Homo sapiens: one gene and its partner. The protein of the gene in region 1 purifies or fractionates together with the protein of each later gene. This does not show direct contact. Each region holds a gene or a part of one and is shown on either strand. Other genes may lie near its edges.

What was found. The genes of interacting proteins can lie anywhere in the genome.
Region 2: the proteins of UBE3A (region 1) and PSMA1 purify together in Homo sapiens (affinity purification with mass spectrometry; 4 studies listed by BioGRID, with this or other methods). This does not show direct contact.

What each region holds. Positions count from the first base shown.
Region 1 is NC_000015.10:25,369,525-25,373,024, reverse strand, and holds part of UBE3A (ubiquitin-protein ligase E3A), read left to right. Parts: intron 1-1,212; coding exon 1,213-2,459; intron 2,460-3,500. UniProt on the Homo sapiens protein: E3 ubiquitin-protein ligase which accepts ubiquitin from an E2 ubiquitin-conjugating enzyme in the form of a thioester and transfers it to its substrates.
Region 2 is NC_000011.10:14,504,376-14,507,381, reverse strand, and holds the end of PSMA1 (proteasome subunit alpha type-1), read left to right. Parts: intron 1-2,133; coding exon 2,134-2,190; 3' UTR 2,191-2,506; downstream 2,507-3,006. UniProt on the Homo sapiens protein: Component of the 20S core proteasome complex involved in the proteolytic degradation of most intracellular proteins. This complex plays numerous essential roles within the cell by associating with different regulatory particles.

The DNA.
Region 1 (3,500 bases):
CTTGTAGCTGGGCCACAGATCAGATCCTTAGTATGATAAAATTTGGTATTTTTGTGCTTCAATTTTTGGAGACCATTCAATGATCACTTACATTTTATATTGTCTTTCATTGTGAAACATATATTATAGCAGAGGTGGGAGTCATTAAAAATTCTACATGTTGTACACTACATGTATAAGGGTATATTTGGCGCAATGGAGGTAGGATTGTCTGTGTGCCTCTAAAATTAACCTCTCAAGTAGTTAATCTGATGATGACAAGTATGTCACTTTATTGATAAAAGGGAGAATTAAGACTATTCTCAGTATTATGTTGGTCAGTACACAAAATATATCATTTGTTTTTACCTGTGAAATGAAATATCTTTCATCCTATTAGCCAGAAGGGAGAAAGCCTTGGCCTGAAAATAACACTTATCTCAAAAAGTTGGGAAATGTGGTCCAACTCTGTGCCCAGGAAAAGAGGAAATAGATTTTGATGACTACATAGTCTCTGCACTGCTTGCCAGCTCATAAGTTTACTTCTTTGCACTGTTTGTTTTCATTGCTCAAAAACTATTTTCTGTCACTCTATGAGATTTAGTCTAACCTGATTCCTGGCTGTGGAAAGCAGTTTCTACTTAAGAGCCGATGAGAAATGGTATATTCTTCTCAATCACTCACAGAATGACTACCCTGGAACAAACTAGGAAGACCCAAAATGAACCAGTTTGATTTTAATACATACATAGATGCTGAAGGAGCCTTTTTTTAAGACCTTGCCTTCTTAGTCTTTGGAGAACAGAGTACTGAAACAAGAAAACTCACAGATTAGTAGTATTTCTGTGTGTTCTACAGTGAGGTTTTAAGAGCTGTATTATGATTAATCAGTACATGACATATTGGTTCATATTTATAATTAAAGCTATACATTAATAGATATCTTGATTATAAAGAAAGTTTAAACTCATGATCTTATTAAGAGTTATACATTGTTGAAAGAATGTAAAAGCATGGGTGAGGTCATTGGTATAGGTAGGTAGTTCATTGAAAAAAATAGGTAAGCATTAAATTTTGTTTGCTGAATCTAAGTATTAGATACTTTAAGAGTTGTATATCATAAATGATATTGAGCCTAGAATGTTTGGCTGTTTTACTTTTAGAACTTTTTGCAACAGAGTAAACATACATATTATGAAAATAAATGTTCTCTTTTTTCCTCTGATTTTCTAGATGTGACTTACTTAACAGAAGAGAAGGTATATGAAATTCTTGAATTATGTAGAGAAAGAGAGGATTATTCCCCTTTAATCCGTGTTATTGGAAGAGTTTTTTCTAGTGCTGAGGCATTGGTACAGAGCTTCCGGAAAGTTAAACAACACACCAAGGAAGAACTGAAATCTCTTCAAGCAAAAGATGAAGACAAAGATGAAGATGAAAAGGAAAAAGCTGCATGTTCTGCTGCTGCTATGGAAGAAGACTCAGAAGCATCTTCCTCAAGGATAGGTGATAGCTCACAGGGAGACAACAATTTGCAAAAATTAGGCCCTGATGATGTGTCTGTGGATATTGATGCCATTAGAAGGGTCTACACCAGATTGCTCTCTAATGAAAAAATTGAAACTGCCTTTCTCAATGCACTTGTATATTTGTCACCTAACGTGGAATGTGACTTGACGTATCACAATGTATACTCTCGAGATCCTAATTATCTGAATTTGTTCATTATCGTAATGGAGAATAGAAATCTCCACAGTCCTGAATATCTGGAAATGGCTTTGCCATTATTTTGCAAAGCGATGAGCAAGCTACCCCTTGCAGCCCAAGGAAAACTGATCAGACTGTGGTCTAAATACAATGCAGACCAGATTCGGAGAATGATGGAGACATTTCAGCAACTTATTACTTATAAAGTCATAAGCAATGAATTTAACAGTCGAAATCTAGTGAATGATGATGATGCCATTGTTGCTGCTTCGAAGTGCTTGAAAATGGTTTACTATGCAAATGTAGTGGGAGGGGAAGTGGACACAAATCACAATGAAGAAGATGATGAAGAGCCCATCCCTGAGTCCAGCGAGCTGACACTTCAGGAACTTTTGGGAGAAGAAAGAAGAAACAAGAAAGGTCCTCGAGTGGACCCCCTGGAAACTGAACTTGGTGTTAAAACCCTGGATTGTCGAAAACCACTTATCCCTTTTGAAGAGTTTATTAATGAACCACTGAATGAGGTTCTAGAAATGGATAAAGATTATACTTTTTTCAAAGTAGAAACAGAGAACAAATTCTCTTTTATGACATGTCCCTTTATATTGAATGCTGTCACAAAGAATTTGGGATTATATTATGACAATAGAATTCGCATGTACAGTGAACGAAGAATCACTGTTCTCTACAGCTTAGTTCAAGGACAGCAGTTGAATCCATATTTGAGACTCAAAGTTAGACGTGACCATATCATAGATGATGCACTTGTCCGGGTAAGTTGGGCTGCTAGATTAAAAACCTAATAATGGGGATATCATGATACAGTTCAGTGAATTCATTTTAAAAGTGACTGAAAAAAATGATACCATATAGCATAGGAACACATGGACATTTCTGATCTTATATAAGTATTATACTTTTGTTGTTCCTGTGCAAGTTTATAGATGTGTTCTACAAAGTATCGGTTGTATTATATAATGGTCATGCTATCTTTGAAAAAGAATGGGTTTTCTAAATCTTGAAAACTAAATCCAAAGTTTCTTTCATTCAGAAGAGAATAGAGTGTTGGACAAAGACCAGAACAAGAGAAATGTGGAGATACCCAATAATAAGTGTGGATGTGCAGTCTTGAACTGGGAGTAATGGTACAGTAAAACCATACCATAAAATTATAGGTAGTGTCCAAAAAATTCCATCGTGTAAAATTCAGAGTTGCATTATTGTGGACTTGATGAAGTGACCATGGCAGATCAGTGCCTGTTGCCAGTAAGAGTTGAGTCCTGCTGGGCCACTTAGAATATCCCTGTGTGGACGGCACTGCCTGGCTGTGGTAGTTTCTTCCCACTTAAAAATTCATAGAGACAACTCTGGGTCTTGGAACTTCTGGAAAACAGCAGCTATTCCAAAAATCTGGGGATTAGTGGTGCCTGTAACATCAAGTCCAGGGAGATTGAGCAGGGAAATACTGGAAACTCAGGTACTCATCCTAACTTCCTGGTTTTCCAGATGGGGTTGCCATTTGTTCCTTTTCTTTCCTCCACAAGATAATTTTAGTGTATCTGTTTAAGAATATAAGAGTGGCCAGAAGACAGAAAGCAGTCGTCAGTCACATTTCACCAAAATTTACATTTGTCTCAGGTGCATTATCGCAGAGCTTTATTGTATTTCTAGTATTAGCTATCCCTGTCATTGCTGCTACTTTTTTATCATCTTCAAGTAAAATTTAATGTCAACAAAAATTAAGGTAGTTAATAATACTATAGTATACTAGTAAAGTTGTCTGACACAGACAACTAGGAAATGTGATTTTTACT
Region 2 (3,006 bases), on another chromosome or scaffold:
ATCCTGGCCAACATGGTGAAACCCCGTCTCTACTAAAAATACAAAAATTAGCTGGGCGTCATGGCATGCACCTGTAGTCCCAGCTACTCAGGAGGTGAGGCAGGAGAATCGCTTGAACCCGGGAGGCGGAGGTTGCAGTGAGCTGAGATCCTACCACTGCCCTCCAGCCTGGGCGACAGAGAGAGACTCTGTCTCAAAAAAAAAAAACAAACACAAAAAGGGAGAAGTGTTGATTATTTGGTTATCTATTGCTAGGTAATAAGCTACCCCAAAACTTAGGGGCTAGAACAACAAACACTACTTCTCACAATTTTGCGGCTGACTGGGGCTCACCTACATGGTTCTTTGCTGGTCTCACCTGGGATCTCTCAAACATTGCAGTCATTTGTGGGGTGCAACTGGAACACCCAAGATAACTTCAGTCACATGTCTTCTTTACTCACACCTTTTAGGTGTCTTAGAGGAGCATCTAGAAGGCAGAGACCTCTGCTAGGATGACTGAGCCTCTGTCCACGTAGTTTCAGGGCCGCTTCTTCAGCAGGGTCTCTCTAGCATATTGGCAACTCAGGGCTTGCAAAAGTCAGAAGTGAAAGCCGCCAGGCATTCTTAAGGCTGAGATGCAGGACTGGCACAACATCACTTGTACACATTCTGTTGGTTAAAGTGAGTCACTGGCCTGGCCCAGATTCTGTTTGAGCAGAGACTGGGAGAAATGCTCATTGGGGGCCAGCTTTGGACACTAAGATGGCTCTTCATAAAGAGAAAAGCATCAAGAAGTGAATCTCAGGTGAAATATGGGTCTTTTTGCTAGATGTTTAGAATATACATTTGCTATTTATAGATGCTTATTTGATAGCAGTGTAATTGAAAGTAAAAAAGAATCTAGTATGGAAATTTCTACAGCATGAGTTTTTTTAACTTGGAAAGGATATTGTTGGTACTATTTGGGGGATCAAGATTTGCAATATTTAAACTGTTTTTGGTAAAAACTAGCACTGTTGGGAAGAATGCTGTGGAATACCACAAACTAGTTTGGCAAAGGGGAAAAGAATGTCTAAAAAGTGCTGATTGTATTTTAAACATAGTAGTGATAATACAAGGAAAGCTTTTATTCCTGAGCAATGCAAAGTACGATAAAATGGTGGAATTGTTCAATGATATTTAGGTTTTCAGAAATGTGAAATTATATATACAGTTATCCTCGAACAGTGTGGGGTTTAGTGGTGCCAAACCCCAGCATGGTTGAAAATCCACATATAACTTTTGACTCCTAAAAATCTTCTGATAGCCTGCTGTTGACTGGAAGCCTTACTGATAACATAAACTGACAATTAACACATAAATAGACTAGTTTCTTTTTTGTTGTTTTTTGAGACAAGGTCTTGCCCTCTTGTCCAGGCTGGCGTGCAGTGGTGCCATCATAGCTCACTGCAAGGTTGAACTCCTGGGCTCAAGCGATTCTCCTACCTTCCCCCGCGCCACCAAGTAGCTGAAACTACAGGTGTGTGCCACCATGCCCAGCACATTTTTTTTCTTTTTAGTAGAGATGGGATCTCACTGTGTTGCCCAGGCCAGTTTCAAACTCCTGGGCTTAAGCAATCCTCATGCCTCAGCCTCCCAGAGTGTTGGGATTACAGGTGTGAACTGCTGCACCCGACCAAATAGACTATTTTCTACATATATTTTATGCATTCGGCATACCTAACTTTTTCTTACTCTTTTTTTTTATATTTCTAGGCTACACAGTTGGTCTGCTAGTTTATATTTATTGGAAAACAAACAAACAAAAAAAAGCTTCACCCTAAACAATGTTAGAGTAAAAGCAAACAAAAAAGAAAAAGAAAAAGAAAAAGAAATCTGCATATAAGTGGACCCTCACTGTTTAAACCTTTGTTGTTCGAGCCAACTGTATTTTTTTTAAATAAAAAATCTTTATTCCCTCAAATCATGAGCACTCAAGGAGAAAAAAAATACTGCTCAGAAATGTTAACAGGACAGTGAACTAAAACTGAGTATTCAGAATATCTCTTTACCCCTTTTTCTCAATTTTTAATAACGTAATATTTGTGATTAGATGTGTATATTGATCAAGTGTTCATTTTACATATTTTCTTTTTTTCTTTCCCTGTTAAGCCTGCTCAACCTGCTGATGAACCTGCAGAAAAGGCTGATGAACCAATGGAACATTAAGTGATAAGCCAGTCTATATATGTATTATCAAATATGTAAGAATACAGGCACCACATACTGATGACAATAATCTATACTTTGAACCAAAAGTTGCAGAGTGGTGGAATGCTATGTTTTAGGAATCAGTCCAGATGTGAGTTTTTTCCAAGCAACCTCACTGAAACCTATATAATGGAATACATTTTTCTTTGAAAGGGTCTGTATAATCATTTTCTAGAAAGTATGGGTATCTATACTAATGTTTTTATATGAAGAACATAGGTGTCTTTGTGGTTTTAAAGACAACTGTGAAATAAAATTGTTTCACCGCCTGGTATATTGGGTTTTTGTTTTTTTAAGTAGCTTCAACTCTATATAGTAGTCTGGGATTACAACTGGTCATTTGCCTAATTAAATTGCCTTATTTTTAGTGATGGAGAAAAATAATACCTCTTATCTGTCATAGCCTTATAACAGTTCTCCAGTGTATGAACTGGCTGCATGAGAATCCATGGAGATTTGGTTTAGAATACAAATTTCAGGGTTCAACTGTGGTGATTTTAATTAAAACTTAAGAAACCACCACTTCCTGATATAAGCATCAGTTATCATATGAATGGTTTTCTTTCCAACCAGCAAATGGCAGTAGTTGTAGCTCTGGTCTTTGAAGGGAACTTCTGTAAAAACAACACATGGGAAATTGTAATCCCAAACCTTTTATCCTCTCCAGCCCCACTCCAGCATGATCTTTAGGCTGCCTTCTGTTATTCCCATGAGTGGCATACTCAGGTATTGCAGAACCATTTTTATCTTAGACCATGTAAACTGAAATTAGAG